Homo sapiens: one gene and its partners. The protein of the gene in region 3 interacts with the protein of the main gene of each other region in a pairwise test. Each region holds a gene or a part of one and is shown on either strand. Other genes may lie near its edges.

Evidence for each region. The genes of interacting proteins can lie anywhere in the genome.
Region 1: the proteins of ATP1A3 (region 3) and ESRP1 interact in binary tests that used the Homo sapiens proteins (3 or more experiments, as listed by UniProt).
Region 2: the proteins of ATP1A3 (region 3) and ZBTB49 interact in binary tests that used the Homo sapiens proteins (3 or more experiments, as listed by UniProt).

Annotation. Positions count from the first base shown.
Region 1 is NC_000008.11:94,700,174-94,707,173, forward strand, and holds part of ESRP1 (epithelial splicing regulatory protein 1), read left to right. Parts: intron 1-5,751; coding exon of another isoform or gene 5,752-5,772; 3' UTR 5,773-7,000. UniProt on the Homo sapiens protein: mRNA splicing factor that regulates the formation of epithelial cell-specific isoforms. Specifically regulates the expression of FGFR2-IIIb, an epithelial cell-specific isoform of FGFR2.
Region 2 is NC_000004.12:4,307,251-4,314,250, forward strand, and holds part of ZBTB49 (zinc finger and BTB domain-containing protein 49), read left to right. Parts: intron 1-5,790; coding exon 5,791-5,864; intron 5,865-7,000. UniProt on the Homo sapiens protein: Transcription factor. Inhibits cell proliferation by activating either CDKN1A/p21 transcription or RB1 transcription.
Region 3 is NC_000019.10:41,965,940-41,970,230, reverse strand, and holds the end of ATP1A3 (sodium/potassium-transporting ATPase subunit alpha-3), read left to right. Parts: coding exon 1-46; intron 47-650; coding exon 651-796; intron 797-1,315; coding exon 1,316-1,446; intron 1,447-2,467; coding exon 2,468-2,569; intron 2,570-2,890; coding exon 2,891-2,982; intron 2,983-3,265; coding exon 3,266-3,294; 3' UTR 3,295-3,649; downstream 3,650-4,291. UniProt on the Homo sapiens protein: This is the catalytic component of the active enzyme, which catalyzes the hydrolysis of ATP coupled with the exchange of sodium and potassium ions across the plasma membrane.

The sequences.
Region 1 (7,000 bases), on a different chromosome or scaffold from region 3:
ATGGCAAAGTGCTTCCAGTGGACTGCATGGTGGCTACCGAGATACGTCCACATCCTGATCCCTGGAACCTGTGACTATTACCTTCTATGGAAAAAGCTGTAATGAGGTTCTTGAGAGGAAAATAGATCATGAATTATCTGGGTGGTCCCTAGATACAATCACTCGTGTAAGAAAGAGGCAGAGGGAAATCAGACAGAGACACATACAGAAGAGGAGGCAGCAATGTGACGAGGGAGGCAGAGATGAGAGAGCTGTTGACACAGCCCAGGAGTGTTCCCAGCTACCAGCAGCTGGAAGAGGCAAGGACCTGACTGCTCCCTGGAGCCTCCAGAGGATGCACAGCCGCACTGACACAGTTTCTCATTCCTGGCCTCCAGAATTGTTAGAGAATGAATACCTCTTATTTTATGCCACCCAATTTATGGTAACAGCAGTGACAGGAAACTAACAGTATTTTTAAAAATATGTTAAGAGGGCCGGGTGTAGTGGCTCACGCCTGTAATCCCAGCACTTTGGGAGGCTGAGGCGGGCGGATCACGAGGTCAGGAGATCGAGACCGTCCTGGCTAACACGGTGAAACCCCGTCTCTACTAAAAATACAAAAAATCAGCTGGGTGTGGTGGTGGGCGCCTGTAGCCCCAGCTACTCGGGAGGCTGGGGCAGGAGAATGGCATGAACCCGGAAGGCAGAGCTTGTAGTGAGCCGAGATCGCGCCACTGCACTCCAGCCTGGGCAACAGAGCAAGACTCCGACTCAAAAAAAAATGTGTGTGTGTGTGTATGTGTGTGTGTGTGTGTGTGTGTGTGTGTGTTAAGAGGGCCGGGTGCGGTTGCTCATGCCGGTAATCCCAGCATTTTGGTAGGCTGAAGCAGGTGGATCATCTGAGGTCAGGAGTTCGAGACCAGTCTGGCCAACGTGGCGAAACCCTGTCTTTACTAAAAATAGAAAAAAATTAGCTGGGTGTGGTGGTGTGTGCCTATAATCCCAGCTACTCAGAAGGCTGAGGCAGGGGAATTGCTTGAACCTGGGAGGTGGAGGTTGCAGTGAGCTGAGATCACGCCACTGCACTCCAGCCTGGGCGACAGAGCAAGACTCCATCTCAAAAAAAAAAAAAAAGAATTGAGCGATTGATCTCATGGCTGGCTATAGGATCAGGTAAAGAAAGCTAACACCCACAGCGAGGTCTGGTAAAGAAGTCACACTATTCTGTCTTCTCTTGCCTTGTCCCATCAACCCAGCCAACACACGTTGACTATCCCACTGAATCAGTGGAGATATGCTTCATTTAACCATTCAAGATGCCCACAAGCCTTTCTGGGAAGGAGATTGGGTGTCGGGCTGGAAGAAATGCTTCCTCAGATCGCCAGAAAGGGTGTTTTTCTCCAGTTACTGTTACATTCCAAGTTGCTTTCTTCTTTTTCTTTTTCTTTTTTTTTTCTTTTTTTTGTCCCCATAGAGACAAGGTCTCACTATGTTGCCCCAGTCTGGTCTTGAACTTCTGGGTTCAAGCTGTCTCTCTGCCACAGCCTTCCAAAGGGCTGGGATACCGGCATGAGCCACTGTGCCTGGCCAAGTTCCAAGTTTCGTATCTGTTAGGTCTCAAAGGCAATGTCAGCCCCCAAATTTAAATCTATTAATGATATTTTGGCTTGTACATGGTAGCTTATGCCTGTGCATGGAAGATTGCTTGAGCCTGGAAGTTCAAGAATAGCCTGGGCAATGTGGTGAGACCTCGTCTCTACAAAAAATTAAAAGATAGCCAGGTGTCGTCATGCATGCCTGTAGTCCAAGTTACTCGGGAGGCTGAGGTGGAAGGATGGCTTCAGCCCAGGAGGTCGAGGTTGCGGTGAGCTGTCATCGTGCCACTGCCCTCCAGCCTGGACGACAGAGCGAGAGTTAATGAATGAAAACAAGTTTTACAAACTAAAGTTTTATATTAATACATAACTTTTGCTGTCATGATTATAATAATCATAGGGACATAGGGTTTTTTTGTGTTTTTCTGAGATGGAATCTCACTCTGTCACCCAGGCTGGAGTGTAGTACTTAGATCAGTGTTATCTTTCCCTTTTTTGTTATTGGACTGTCAGCCTTAAGCAACAGGGCTTTGCTTTTTTGATAGGTGTGTTTTCTAGGCCTTCCATAGGATCTGTTCTAAAGAGTTCAGATTACATAAACTTTCTAAATAATGAGAAATTCCTACTGAGAAATTTTATGCAAAAATAACACAGTATTTACCTCTGTCTGGACGGTTACCAGTTAATTACATGAAAAAATATAAAAACTGTATTTGATCATTTTGTAACTTTATGTTGCAAGTTCTTGTGTAAGATGATTAAAAAGAACAAACTTTTTATAAGATCTTATTTTTTCCATTTAGATAATCTGAGTCCAGAATAACAGTAAAAACACATAGGAAGTACTTATAGTTTCCTGAGTAGCTGGGACTACAGGCGCACACCACCATGCCTAGCTAATTTTTTGTATTTTTAGTAGAGATGGGGTTTCACCATGTTAGCCAGGATGGTCTCAATCTCCTGACCTCGTGATCCGCCTGCCTCGGCCTCCCAAAGTGCTGGGATTATAGGTGTGAGCCGCCACGCCCAGCCTTCAAGTGAGCCTTTTACCTTAGCCTCCCTGGTAGCTGAGATTATAGGTGTTCTCCACCATGCCTGGCTGTAGAATTGCAGGGTTTTTAAGGGATTATAGGTTCATTCTGTAGCATATAGCACCAGTGGTGAAATCCAGATATCTTTAAAGACTTCTTTGTATGTAATACTTTAATGACAGTGTATTACAAAATAAAAACATGTTTTAACACAGATCTTATTTGAAAGGGAAATCAGATTTGTAAATGTCTGCAGTTGTAATTCTCAACTTTGTTTGCTATAGCTAAACGGGAAGAGGAAACATTATCTCCTTCTGAGATTGATTGTTTTTTTTTTTTTTTTGCTAGCAGTTAGGAGTCTGCAGTTTCTTTTTGTTGTTGTTGTTGTTGTTGAGACAGAGTCTTGCTCTATCCCCAGGCTGAAGTACAGTGGCGCAATCTCGGCTCACTGCAACCTCCACCTCCCGGGTTCAAGCGATTCTCCTGCCTCAGCCTCCCGAGTAGCTGGGACTACAAGCACACACCGCTACTCCCAGCTTATTTATTATTTTTAGTAGAGACAGGGTTTCACCATGTTGGCCAGGATGGTCTCCATCTCGACCTCATGATCTGCCCGCCTCACCTTCCCAAAGTGCTGGGATTACAGGCATAAACCATCGCTCCTGGCCTCAGTTTCATTGTTACACAGTCAAACTCCACTGGCATTAAAAAACGGTTCGAGAAGGCTAAACGTTTAACTTTAACTTTTCCTGGCATTTCCACATTTTATCAGAATATGAAGGCTTAATTTTCAGCATCTACAAAGATGCTATTTCCTAGTATAAATGTGATAGGAATGAAGAAGTTGGTACTCACTGACTCTAATAACTGACAGTCCCAGGGTTGACTGATGTAGCTGGATCCAAGGGTTTGCTCATCCAAACTCACTCTCTGAGATACCCCTAGCAACACTTGGCCTTCACTGGCCTGGCTTACGTTCATCCTAAAACCACAATGACCTGGGATATGCAGGGCTCTAACTGGCCATGTCTGGGCCCCTTGTTTGGCTCAGTGGTAAAACTGCCTCTTAGGGGCTTGAGATTAGGTGATGGGGCAGTTGTTTTCAATTCAGGTGCTACTGCCAAAAGAGGGGTAAAATAGATACTGATCAATAGTGTTGGGTCATTGATTTTCTTATCTGAATTTAGTGTCAAAGGAGAAGCCTTTCAGCATGTGGTATTTTAAACTGAGTGCCAAATTGTGGTCACTTTGGAAACCACATTTAAAAGATGCATCCTAACCAATATTTCCATGTTTTTTAAATACCTGATATTAGATTTGTACCATTTGTAGAATCTATGTTATTAAGGCAGATTTAATCTTGAAATAAATTAATCTTCATGTGCTTCTGAGACTTTTTTTTTTTTTTTTGCTAGCAGTTAGGAGTCTTCAGTTTCATTGTTAAGCAGTAAAACTCCATTAGACATTTCATACTGGCCATATGAAATAAGACTGAAGTCTAAAACATTCCTGTTTTTCATTTACATGTCAAAGTATGCATAATGGCCATGTGTGGTGGCTCACACATGTAATCTCAGCACTTTACAGTACTTTAGAATGCCAGGCAAGAGGAACACTTGAGGCTGAGTTTGAGACTAGCCTGGACGACATAGGGAGACCCCATCTCTAAAATATATATATATCTCTTTTATTTAGCCTAGGGCCAGGTGTTGTGACTCACACTTGTAATCTCAGCACTTTGAGAGGTCAAGGCAGGAGGATTGCTCGAGGCCTGGAGTTTGAGACCAGACTGGTCAGGATGGTGAGAATCTGTCTTTACAAACAATTTGAAAATTAGCTGGATATAGTGGTGTGCCTGTAGTCCCAGCTGTTCAGGAGGCCGAGGTGGAGGATACCTTGAGCCCAGGAATTTGGGGCAGCAACGAGCTCTGATCTCACCACTGTACTCCAGCCTGGGTGACAATGCAAGGCACCATCTCTTTTTGAAAAAAAAAAAAAAAAAAAAAAAAAAACTGCAGTGAGCTATGATTGGATCATATCACTCCATACTCCATCCTGGGTGATGGAGCTAGACCCTGTTTCAAAACAATATATAATGCCTACTAAAAGTTCTTATTTTAAGGTTGTATGGTATATAAGTAAAATAACATAGTGGAACCAATCTGTATTAGTTTAAATCCTGCATCTGCCCATTACTAACTTAATCATTCTGTGCTTCAGTTTTTCCTTCTCTAAAATGGGGATAACAAGGTAATCTAAAAGGTTGTATGTGGGGATGAAATAAATTTATCCATGATCCATATAAAGGTGCTAATCATCAACTAGTCACAGGCATATAGAGCCCATATGTTTGCTGTTATGTCATGCCTTATTGCTTTTTTTTTTTTTTTTTTTTTTTTTTTTTGAGACAGAGTCTCCCTCTGTTGCCCAGGCTGGAGTGCAATGGCATGACCTTGGCTCACTGTAACCTCCACCTCCCAGGTTAAAGCAATTCTCCTGCCTCAGCCTCCCACATAGCTGGGAATATAGGCACACACCACTACGCCCAGCTAATTTTTGTATTTTTAGTAGAGATGGGGTTTCACCATGTTGGCCAGGCTGATCTCAGACTCCTGACTTCATGTGATCTGCCTGCCTCAGCCTCCCAAAGTGCTGGGATTACAGGCATGAGCCACCATGCCCGGCTCCTTATTGCTTCTTATTAAGTGTCTTAGAAATTATTTGGAATTTCTTATACTAGAATTTAACTTTAAAATTTTGTCTAAATTGTTTTGTTTATTTTGGTAATGATATTGAACCTCTAAGGAATGAATGAAATAGTCTCTCCAGAAAGGAGCTGAGCTGAGCAGGGAGTCGGAAACCATACATGTTAAACTAAACACATGATACTACAAAGGGTAGGAGTGGTGCAGAACGCCAACTACTGTGTAAACCATGGAAACTTCCTTGGCTAGTGCTGTACTCCCAAAGCCCTTGCCATGTAAATGCCAACTATGTCTGTGTGAAATAATAACTTGGACCATCTTAAGGCTTTTTTTCCACAAAGTCCTTGTGGAATTTGAAATCATTTTTGTGGCTGCTGAGAATGACATTTAGAGACTATAACATTTCCTTTTATTCACTTTTTTTTTTTTTTTTTTCAGTGTTTGAAAGATGTATGGTGATCTTGAAACCTCCAGACACAAGAAAACTTCTAGCAAATTCAGGGGAAGTTTGTCTACACTCAGGCTGCAGTATTTTCAGCAAACTTGATTGGACAAACGGGCCTGTGCCTTATCTTTTGGTGGAGTGAAAAAATTTGAGCTAGTGAAGCCAAATCGTAACTTACAGCAAGCAGCATGCAGCATACCTGGCTCTTTGCTGATTGCAAATAGGCATTTAAAATGTGAATTTGGAATCAGATGTCTCCATTACTTCCAGTTAAAGTGGCATCATAGGTGTTTCCTAAGTTTTAAGTCTTGGATAAAAACTCCACCAGTGTCTACCATCTCCACCATGAACTCTGTTAAGGAAGCTTCATTTTTGTATATTCCCGCTCTTTTCTCTTCATTTCCCTGTCTTCTGCATAATCATGCCTTCTTGCTAAGTAATTCAAGCATAAGATCTTGGAATAATAAAATCACAATCTTAGGAGAAAGAATAAAATTGTTATTTTCCCAGTCTCTTGGCCATGATGATATCTTATGATTAAAAACAAATTAAATTTTAAAACACCTGAAGATAAATTAGAAGAAATTGTGCACCCTCCACAAAACATACAAAGTTTAAAAGTTTGGATCTTTTTCTCAGCAGGTATCAGTTGTAAATAATGAATTAGGGGCCAAAATGCAAAACGAAAAATGAAGCAGCTACATGTAGTTAGTAATTTCTAGTTTGAACTGTAATTGAATATTGTGGCTTCATATGTATTATTTTATATTGTACTTTTTTCATTATTGATGGTTTGGACTTTAATAAGAGAAATTCCATAGTTTTTAATATCCCAGAAGTGAGACAATTTGAACAGTGTATTCTAGAAAACAATACACTAACTGAACAGAAGTGAATGCTTATATATATTATGATAGCCTTAAACCTTTTTCCTCTAATGCCTTAACTGTCAAATAATTATAACCTTTTAAAGCATAGGACTATAGTCAGCATGCTAGACTGAGAGGTAAACACTGATGCAATTAGAACAGGTACTGATGCTGTCAGTGTTTAACACTATGTTTAGCTGTGTTTATGCTATAAAAGTGCAATATTAGACACTAGCTAGTACTGCTGCCTCATGTAACTCCAAAGAAAACAGGATTTCATTAAGTGCATTGAATGTGGATATTTCTCTAAGTTACTCATATTGTCCTTTGCTTGAATGCAATGCCGTGCAGATTTATGAGGCTGCTATTTTTA
Region 2 (7,000 bases), on a different chromosome or scaffold from region 3:
AACACCCAGCAGCCAGCAGATGCTCAGGAAGGATTTGATAAGCTGAGCTGAGTGCTCGTCCCTCCAGCCGCCATTCTTGATGAGCCTCCGCTTCTTCCTGCCAGCCTGGCCTGGGGTTCAGAGCTTGGCCTCTGGGGCTGGACAGTCTAGAACTGAGCTCTGCCTCTGTCAGGGCGTCACTACCCTGTGACTTTGGGCAGTCTCACCTTTTGCCCCTTCAGTTTCCTTATCTGTGAAACACGGATAACAAGATTAGTTAACCTCATAGAGTGTGAGGAGTAAATGAGGTAATAACGGAAAGTCCTTAGAGCAGGGCCTGGCACATAGTAAGCGCTCAAGAAACGCCAGCATTCCCTACCTTGTTGCCATCCGCTTTCTCCTCTCCTGTCCATCCTCATGACCCCCAGATGCCGGTCTTTCTGAGGCACCTCCCCGCCCCCACCGTTTTCATCTCAGCAGCTGTGGTTTGATGGGAAAAGCATGAGACTCGGACTAATGACCATGAATAATTAGCAATTGCGACTTCTCTGGGCCTCATTTTTCTAATTCTTAAAATAGGGATAATACTACTTCGTGGAACTAGTGGGAAAATGAAATGAAAAACTAGAGCTGAAAGCCCTTTATACATTTAAATTATGTTGAGAGTAGAAGTTCCATCCTTCTCATGCTTTCTCTGACTCTCCATAGCTGACCATATAAGTTAAAACCCGACATTCAGTCAGGCTGCAGTCCACCTCCACTCCTCTCTCCTGGCACGGATCCTTGGTGCCCACATCAGAGATTCTGATTCTGTGATTTGGAGTGGGGCTTAGGTATTGATGTTTTATTTATTTATTTATTTATTTTTGATGGAGCATCGCTCTGTCGCCCAGGCTGGAGTACAGTGGCGCAATCTGGGCTCACTGCAACCTCTGCCTCCCAGGTTCAAACGATTGTCTTGCCTTAGCCTCCCAAGTAGCTGGGACTACAGGTGCGTTCCACCACGCCCAGCTCAGTTTTTATATTTTTAGTAGAGATGGGGTTTCACCATGTTGGCCAGGATGGTCTCAAACTCCAGACCTCATGATCCACCAGGCTCAGCCTCCCAAAGTGCTGGGATTACAGGCGTGAGCCACCGTGCCCAGCCACGTATCAGTATTTTTAAAAATTCAGCAATTTTGGTGTGCAGCCAAGGTTGAGAACCACCACTATAGCTCTTGACCTGCACTTGCTCTCTTAAATCTTACCAAGGGTAGCCCTGCCCGATCCAGAAACCCTTCCCTTCTGTATTGGTCTGTGTACTTTTGTTAGGTTTCTGTGATTGTAGAGTCATACATAGTGATAGTTTTCAGATGTATATTGCTGCTTTATTTTCATAGTAAAGTATGAATTTTGATGAACAAGGAACTGTTTTAATGTTTGTTGCAAGCCTACAGTGTCCATGTGCTGTCCATGAGCTCTGCTGTGTGCCGGGAAGGGGGACAGAAATGGCCATGGCCTCCAGGAGCTTATTGTTTAGAGGAAGCAACAGACGTGTAAATGATCGAGTACAGTGAAATGTTGGAACTGCTGACAGTTATCTACGGGAACAGTGTGGGCAAAGAAAAGGCAGTAGTCCTTTCTACCTGAAAGGTGTGTTTGGGACAGCATGAGGCCATGAAATGCTTGAGAGATTGCTTAGGTGAGCCCTGCAGACAAGCAGGCACTGGGCAAGCCTGGCATCCCTGGCATGCTGGGGCAAGAAAGCAGTCAGATTGTCTGCATAGGGATGCGTGGTAAAGAATGCCCACCGGCCCATCCTCCACCGTATGCCTAACATTATTTTCTTGTAATGAACTAGAATAAATGTTTGTGGTTACATGGAATTGGAATGCTGTTGTATAAAAACATTTACAAATAAGAATCCCTCATCCTGCTTACTGAGAATTTAGTATTTAGTAGGTTAGTCTTTTTAAAATAGTTAACCGCAGCCTGCATTATGAGGATGGCATGCCAGCATAAGGAAGTTAGCATCATCTTAGAGTGACCACAGAAGCTGCATCTGTCCGTGTGACTGGACACTGTATGTGTCCAGATCTCTGCAGGGAAGAGTCATGTCATACTTTAACGGAAGAGTCATGTCCTACTTTAGAGTATGACTGAGTCGCAGTCAGAGGGAAGTGTTTCCTCTGTGGCGTAGAACATGGACTGTTTGGAGGGCACTGGAGAGAACCAAAAGAGTGACAAGTTTTGAGCGCTTGTCATTTGAGAAACGGGAAAGAAAATGCGGCGTAATTACCTGTCTTTGGGGAGAGGAGTAGGATTGCTTTTGTTCCTCCAAGTAGGCAGAAACAGAAACACTGGGCAGCTGGTACAGAGAGACGGGTTTTGAGAGGCAGTACTCTGCCAGCAGCGCCGTCTAGCCAGCTGTCTGCCCGAGTCCGGGGGTCCTAGTGCCTTCTGCAGGATTACCCTATAGGAGGCATTTCCAGGGTGCTGATGTGGACTCATGCCAGAGGTGACAGTGTCAGCCATCCATGGTGGAAACACAAAAATAAGGACACTTAGTGAGCTTGGCCCAAGCTATTACATTGTCATCTCTGAGGTTATATTTGCCACACCTTTACCGTTGAATGTCCTTTTATCAAAATAGCAGTCATTGTTTAAGTGATATCTCTATGTTAAACCTTACATTTTTTTCTTTTTAATTTTATCGCTGTGTGAAATCCTAAAGTCTTGAAACTCCTGAGCTAGCTGACTTTTAATATCTGGGATCTCTTTTATCTCTAAATGATTACGATTCCTGACTTTTTTTTGATATAAACACTCAACTGCCGTTAAGAGTGCTCATGATAGGGAATAGATGCTGGGTTTGTTCATGTTTAAATACTGAGGTTCAAGTACCTGTCAGAAGGAGTTTATTATAAAAATTGCTGAAGGCAGATGTTAATTCTTCTCTACAGCATAGTTTTTCTGTTAAAAATTCTAACTCCATTTGAAGGTAAAATGGTATTAGAAAGGATCAAAGTTCCTTTACTGCTAATATCGTTAACATAGGTTTAACAGTCCAAACTTTGGAGTCACTAGGCAAACCTGAATTAGTGAATTCAGTCCCCATTTTATGACCCAAGGCTGGTTACTAACCTCTCAGAGCCTCTGTTGACTTCTCTGTAAAACATGGATAATACTGCTTTACAAGACATTGTGATGACTAAGTTAAATACTCTTCGCAACGGTTTAGCAAAGAGCTTCATTCATAGTAAGTTCTTAATAAACGAGAGCTATTATTACCACTTGCTAGAATTTTTTTTTTTTTTTTGAGATGGAGTCTTGCTCTGTTGCCCAGGCTGGAGTGCAGTGGCATGATCTCGGCTCACTGCAAGCTCCACCTCCTGGGTTCACGCCATTCTCCTGCCTCAGCCTCCTGAGTAGCTGGGACTACAGGCGCCCGCCACCATGCCTGGCTAATTTTTTTTTTTTTTTTGTATTTTTAGTAGAGACGGGGTTTCACCATGTTAGCCAGGATGGTCTCGATCTCCTGATCTCATGATCCACCTGCCTCAGCCTCCCAAAGTGCTGGGATTACGGGCATGAGCCACTGCGCCCGGCCTACTTGCTAGAATTTTTATGGACACAACTATAGGTGATTTCTAAGACATGGTCTGTGCACCTAAGATATCCTTAGTACTAGAATATATCAAAAGTTTACCAAAAATAAAAATATTGACTAAAGCTCTAATAATCTGGGCCTGAGTTTGCTGTGTAACCTGGAATAAATTATCTGAATGTACTATTGGATTTTTTGCATGGCCCATTCCATTAGTTTTATTTAATCTGCTTTTATATTATTTATCAGAAATATGCATTCCTGTATCAGGGAGAAAGATTGTTTTCATTATCTATTTCTAGTACAAAATAGGTAAAGAACACTTTAAAGATTTTTCTACCACTTAAAATATTAAATGGAAGATCATTTGATTATATTTCTTTTGAAAACAAGTAATCGTTATGCCATTTTTAAAAAGGAAAAATGCAACATTGCTAAGAATTAACCCAGAATGCATTTCATTCAGAATACATAGTTTACAAAATAACCGAAAAAAGAGGGCTCTAATTTAACAGTTCAGCAGATGGTGCTATTCCGATTATTATGCAACTGATCAGCTTTTCTGAAATTTGCAAGTGACTAATTTAAAACACTGGTGTATTATTTTTAACTCTCCAGTATGTGTTTCCTGAGTGGCAAAGTTACCGTCATATTGAATATTCAAAACACACTATTTCATTCATAGAAACTTGTGTTTCCTCAAGGTTTCCCCACAAGTAGAGGAGTTTAGATTCACAGCAACCAGTATTAATTTCTGGCCCCACCATGTAACTGAGACAACTCCTTTATTTATCTGAATACAATGGTAATTGTACAGTTTATCTGAATACAGTGTTAGTTGTATTATTATCTCAAGAAAATAGGTGGTAAAGGCCTAATTTGAAGTTCAGCAAATGTATATTGCTGTTGATATTTGTTTTATTGTTATTAGGAGCCATTCTATTAAAAGCTGGACATTTTCCAAAGTTTTGTCAAACTCTTTCTCTTTGGTTGTTGAAAATAAACTTGAGTTTTTTCGAAGCCACATTTATCATATTCTTAAATGTAATGTCTAACTCTGTTTCCCAGAATTTGATAGACATGATGAATCTTTCATGTTATATAGTCCGCAGATGGCATTTTTAATACTTGTGAATTCTAGTTTTCATTCACAAGTCAATATCAAACTCATCTTCAAATCTTAACCATGAATCTTAATCTTTGCATTTTATTTAAAATGCAATTTGCAAATTAAAAAAAGCCCCGTGTGTTAGTTGGCTAGTATTCATTCTCGTTTTTCACTTATCTTGTGCATGACACCTGCTCATTTTTACCGCTGGGTATATTACCTCATTTCAGTAGGTTTTCCTTTTTTTTCTTTTTCTTTTTTTTGCCACAGAACACTGTACAAAATTAAAATGAGGAAAATAAAGGTTGAGACTATTAACTTAATTACAGCAATGGAAGATTTTCCAAACCTAATTCGAAACATTAGCAATTAGCTTTTTAAATATCTGAGGCATTTGCAGTTTTAATTTCGCTGTACTTTAGGTAATTTAATATTGATTTCCTGTTGATTAGTACATAGAAATCCATCTGATGATCTCCGTTTCAGTGTTATTCTTCGCAAAGCCTTGCTAGTTTCAGAAATTAGGAACACAATGGCCCTGCACCTGAGAGGCTGCTGTGATTCTCCTGATTTGCCCTTTTGCACAAAGGTAAAATTGAGAAACCTGTCAGAAAGAACCAAGTGTACTTGCCAGAGGAAGTACTTTTTGGAAATGTCTTCCCTTCTTTATGAACAGAAGTATGTTTTTTAGAAAGAAACAATACTGAAATAAGGACGTATGGTGCTTTTGTTTGTTTTAAGTGATGTTTTAAATACATGGCCCAAATAAAATACATCAAGGCCTATTTAAAGTCCAGGCTTGGCGACCACCAAAGCAGCCTCCACAGGGTGCTGTTAAGAGGGAAGCACTGCATAGGGCCTGCCTGAACTAGGACACAGCCAAGGGCTCACATGGAGGACGGGGTGGAGACACATCTCGTGTACAGCAGGTGGCCAGGCACTCTGGCTGCTCTTCACGCTCTTGCCCATGGCTTCTTTTGAGTTGTGTGTAGCTCATCTTCATCTGGAATTTGAATTGGAACCTGGCTAAATGTGTCAGTTTTCCTTTTGAATTTATATAATTTAAAAAACCAAAAACTTTCATTATTGGTGTGTTTTTCTTTTCCTCTTTTTGCAGGCAGGTAACTTGCAGACTCACTTACGACGGCATTCTGGTGAAAAACCATACATCTGCGAGATCTGTGGAAAGAGGTCAGTGCTGGGCGTGTTCTTCCGTGTGGAAGGGAGCATGTCTAGTCTCAGTGTCTTTGGTAGTCAGTGTCTTCTGAAGTGGTGGCTCACAGATGAGCCACAGGTGGGCTCACCCTGCCACTGCAGAACACAGGTAAATTCAAACCTTCTGGCTTTGCATGTGACACACGAGAGAATAATAAAAAGAAAAGTTAATTCAAAGAAAGAAAAGCTGGGACAGGAGTCCCAAAAAGGAAATGGGGTTTTAAATGCAACAAAATTATTTTATACTAATATTTTCATTCATTCTAAAAATGTCTCTGAAAATATAATAGATTAATGCCCCCAAGGAGGTGACTGTCTAGTAGGGGAAATGGGACTTGGCAGCTGAGTGACTAGATTTCAGGAGAGAAGGAGGTGGTGGAAGGTGCCACAAGCCGTGGGTCTGTAACAGCCTGTGAGAGCTCCACCCCAGGGAGGAGGAAACTAAGTCTTGATGGGTGGGTAGGATTTTGACCTGGCAAAAGAGAATCTGACTCTTGACGTGGAATAAAGTGTGTGGCAGCTCGATTCCTCTGCAGCGTGGTATAAATGAGGAGCTCTTCCCCTGCTGTGTGTGCAGGCTGGCACCCTCGACCCTCCTTCCTGTCCTTGGGCTGTACGTCAATCAGGCCACGTACTCCATCATCTGGTGGTTGTGCCAGGACAACAGGCATCAGCCAGGACTATGCCAGTCACGAAGCTCTGTACGCACCTTGGTTACGTAGCTTTTATATTCATTTATTTAATCATTCATTGATTCAACATTTTTTAGACACCTGCTGTATGCCAAGTGCTATATGGGTCCATAAAAATAAACAGTACAGAGTCTCTGCCTGTCACAGATTCATACCGAAGTGCCTTGAGGCAAGAGATAGTCACGGGGTCAGTTAGAAGTCAGTGTCCTCATATTCAGTCTCAGCACATGCTGGGGAAAGCCGAGGAGGAAGCGACTCTCGATTCAGTTTCAGGAAAACCATTTCTCTGCCAATGGTAGAAAACAAACAAAAGCTGCGGCGGGCAGCGCATCTCCCTTTCTGCTGTAGCTACCTGAACGCTGAAAGTCAAGTTCAGGGCCCAGTGTCATCTGCCGCTCCTTCCAGATGCCTGGGAGCATA
Region 3 (4,291 bases):
AAATTGGTCAATGAGAGACTCATCAGCATGGCCTACGGGCAGATTGGTGAGGCACCGGGGACTCCATCTCCTTACCACCCAGTGCCGGGCCTAGAGCAGTGCCTGGCCCACCGTGGGTGCTTGGGACCCTGGCATTGACTCAGGGGAGCAGACGTGGGCAGGACCAACCAGTGAGCTATCTGTGGGGGGGGTCTGCACCCCATCCTTCTCCACCTCCTCCTCTCTGCTGTTGATGTGTGCGGATCCCCAGAGGAGTGGAGCAGCCACCCTTGGGGGCTGTCCCAGCAAGCAGAGACTTCATGGCAGTGGTTCCAGGCCCAGGGAGGTCATTCCTGCGTAGGGAGCTCAAGCTGGGGATCCCCCAAGAATTCATGATGTTTAGGTGGCCTAGGTCAGGTGAGAGAGGGGCTCCAGGTTATCCCTCTGGGAGAGCCCTCTCTCCAAAGCCCCTGTCCCAGGTGGCCCACCCATCTCAGGGCCTCACCACCAAGTGAGACCTCAGGTCACCCTCTGGGAACCAATGTCCAGATAACAGGGCCAGGAGGGCATACTCCCCTCTCCAAGGAGGCCTCCGGGCCCTCTGAGGTGCCCTGGGTTGGCTGCTGGCCCCAATCTGAGCCTCTCCTCGGCTTCCTCTCTCCTCCTTCCAGGAATGATCCAGGCTCTCGGTGGCTTCTTCTCTTACTTTGTGATCCTGGCAGAAAATGGCTTCTTGCCCGGCAACCTGGTGGGCATCCGGCTGAACTGGGATGACCGCACCGTCAATGACCTGGAAGACAGTTACGGGCAGCAGTGGGTGAGTAGGGCAGGGTGCTGTGTCTCTGCCCACCGTAAGATCCCCGGGGTGAGCTGTTCCAGCCATGCATGGCCACTTCCTACGATGGCCCCCTCAGTCTCCCATGGCAGCATCAAGGCCTTTGCTGGGCACCTGGGGCTTCCTGGATGCCCTTGGCCCAGCCCATCTGGAGCCTTGTGTCCCACTGCTGGAGCTCTCTGCCCTGCCAGGCCTTCTTCCCCACCTCTGTCTGTCCCTTCAAAGCCCAGTTGCTGTCTGTCCTCCTTGGGAGGCCCACAGGGTCCTTATCCTCCTCCCTGGCCCCTGGTGGATGGTGAGATCACCATTAACCTTTCTTCTTCCTTGTACGTCTCCTGACTCCTCCCTCGGGACTATGAGCCCGCAGAAGGAAGACACACCTGAGGCCCTGAGGACCCCATGCAGGATGGGGCGGGGCAAAGAGCACCGGAACGTCGGGGTGGCGGCTAGGGCTGCAGTGCCACTAACTGACGTCCCGTGCCCTGGTCACCGCTCCTGCAGACATACGAGCAGAGGAAGGTGGTGGAGTTCACCTGCCACACGGCCTTCTTTGTGAGCATCGTTGTCGTCCAGTGGGCCGATCTGATCATCTGCAAGACCCGGAGGAACTCGGTCTTCCAGCAGGGCATGAAGTGAGGGCCGGGGGCACATGGTGACTGGACAGCCATCTGTCCTGTCCGAGTGTCTGTCTGTCTGTGTACTTCCTCTTGTGTCCTTGCTTTGGTTTTTTGTTGTTTTGTTGAGGCAGGGTCTCACTCTGTCACCCAGACTGGAGTTCAGTGGTGTAATCATAGCTCACTGCAGCCTCGACCTCCTGGGCTCAAGTGACCCACCCACCTCAGCCTCCTGAGTAGCTGAGACTACAGGTGTGCACCATCATATATGGCTAATTTTTATTTATTTATTTAGAGACAGAGTCTTGCTCTGTTGCCCAGGCTGGAGTGCAGTGGCACAATCTTGGCTCACTGCAACCTCCGCCTCCCGGGTTCAAGCGATTCTCATGCCTCAGCCTCCCAAGTAGCTGGGATTACAGGTACGCACCACCAGGCTCGGCTAATTTTTCGTATTTTTAGTAGAGTTTCACCATGTTGCCCAGGCTGGTCTCAAACTCCTGAGCTCAGGCAATCTTCCTGCCTCAGCCTCCCAGAGTGCTAGGATTACAGGTGTGAGCCACCATGCCCAGCCCATTTTGGGTTTTGCCACTGCACTGATTTTCTCTCAAGGGGTCCTGTGTGTCCTAGATTCTCTCTCAGCCTCTGTGTGTGTGGTGGAGGTGCCCCTGGCCTTTTCTTTTTATACCAGTGCCTCTCTGTGTCTGTCCCTGTCTCTGTGTCTGTTTCTGTCCCTGTCTCTGTGTCTGTCCCTGTGTCTGTCTCTCTGTCTGTCCCTGTCTGTCTCTGTGTCTGTCCCTGTCTCTGTGTCTGTCCCTGTCTTTTGTCTCTTTCTGTGTCACCATCGCTCTGCCTCTATCTTTGTCTCTCTCTGTCGGGGCATGTCTCCCCATCTCTGTCTCTCCCTATGTCTCTGCCTCTCTGTCTCTGTGTCTGTGCTGCTGTCTCTGGGTGTCTGCACTGTGCCTCCCCCTGTCTCTGCGGGGTGGCAGGTGCAGGGTGGGTGCTCTCTGGGCCCAGCCCTGCCCTTCTGTGCCTCCAGGAACAAGATCCTGATCTTCGGGCTGTTTGAGGAGACGGCCCTGGCTGCCTTCCTGTCCTACTGCCCCGGCATGGACGTGGCCCTGCGCATGTACCCTCTCAAGTGAGTGCCCCGCTGCCCCCAGCCCTGCCCACACCAGCGCCTGCCATGGAGCCTTCCCTTAGACTCAGCCTGAACCTCAGGCCCCACCTCCCCTGGTGTCCCCACTGCAGTCCCCATTCTGATGCCCCCGAGCCTCCCCCATAGGCTGCTCCCACCACGGATTACTCCGAAGACCCCAGGCCCCAGCCCCGCCCAGGGCACCCTCCACCTGTGAGCACGAAGGATCCTGGGAGACTGCCCCTCTGCGTCCCCTCCAGTCCCCTGAAACTCTGCCTCTCGTTAGGGCCCCGCACTCAAGCCCTCCTGCTCTCCCCTCTGCAGGCCCAGCTGGTGGTTCTGTGCCTTCCCCTACAGTTTCCTCATCTTCGTCTACGACGAAATCCGCAAACTCATCCTGCGCAGGAACCCAGGGGGTGAGGGAGCTCGGCAAGGCAGCCGAGGGGGGCGGGGGGCAGCAGGGTCTCAGGCAGCTGGTCCCAGGCTCCCCTCGCCCTGCTGGATGGCTCTGCCACCTGGTTCCCACTCTTCTCTCTCTTCCCATCTCTCCGGGCACCCACTCTGTCTTCTCACGGGTCTCTGTCTGTGTGGTTTCCTTGTCTCTCTCCCTCTCTGTCCCTCTCTCTGCTGGGCGGCTCGCCTTGCCTGTCTCTCTCCATCTCTTACTCTGTCTCTTTCTTTCCTTCTTTGTCTCTCCAGGTTGGGTGGAGAAGGAAACCTACTACTGACCTCAGCCCCACCACATCGCCCATCTCTTCCCCGTCCCCCAGGCCCAGGACCGCCCCTGTCAGTCCCCCCAATTTTGTATTCTGGGGGGAGGAGCCCTCTCTTCCTGTGGCCCCACCTTGGCCCCCACCCCCTCCACTATCTCCTGCCGCCCCCACTCTGGCTGGCTTCTCTCCCCTGCCCCAAACCTCTCTCCTCTCTCTTTTCTGTGTCAGTTTCTCTCCCTCTCCTCACCCCTCTATCCATTCCTCCCGCCCCAGCCACCTCCCTGGGCTCTTTTTTACTCCCCTTCAGCCCCCCGGCTGATGCCATCTCTGGTTCTGGACAATTATCAAATATATCAGTGGGGAGAGAGAAGCGGTGTGTGTGTTGTGCCTGCTTTCCAGACGGGGACTGCGGCTGGGACAGCATCCCCTCTGTTGGGGCGCGCTGCCAGGCGACTCTCGAAACTGCAGGAACTTAGCCTGGCACTGGCTTGGAAGTCACGGAATCTCAGAGCCATCTAATCACGGAGTTTTCAACTCCACGAAAGTCAGAGCAGCTTGAATTCACCAGGCGATGGCATTGTGGAATCAGAACAGGGGAGAGGGAGGGAAGCAGACGTGGGATGGTGACTGGGAGCCTCTCCTATAGGAGTAGGACCCAGGGGACACAATGACGATGATGATGGTGATGACAGTGATTCACTGAGTGCCTGCTATGTGCTCTGCCCACTTCTAAGTGTGCATTAAATGTGCACAGAGAGAAGAAGTGATTTGCACACAGCTAAGAAGAGACAAATCTGGGATTTGAACCAAGGCTGTCCAAAGTTCTAGGTCACTACGCTATTCTCTCTTTTTATTGAGATAAACTTTCATACAGTGAAGTGCACGCATCTTAAGGGTATAGCTCAATGATTTTAAAAATTGCATCTGCAGGCCAAGCGCGGTGGCTCCCGCCTGTAATCCCAGCACTTTGGGAGGCCCAGGCGGGCGGGTCACTTGAGGTCAGGAGTACGAG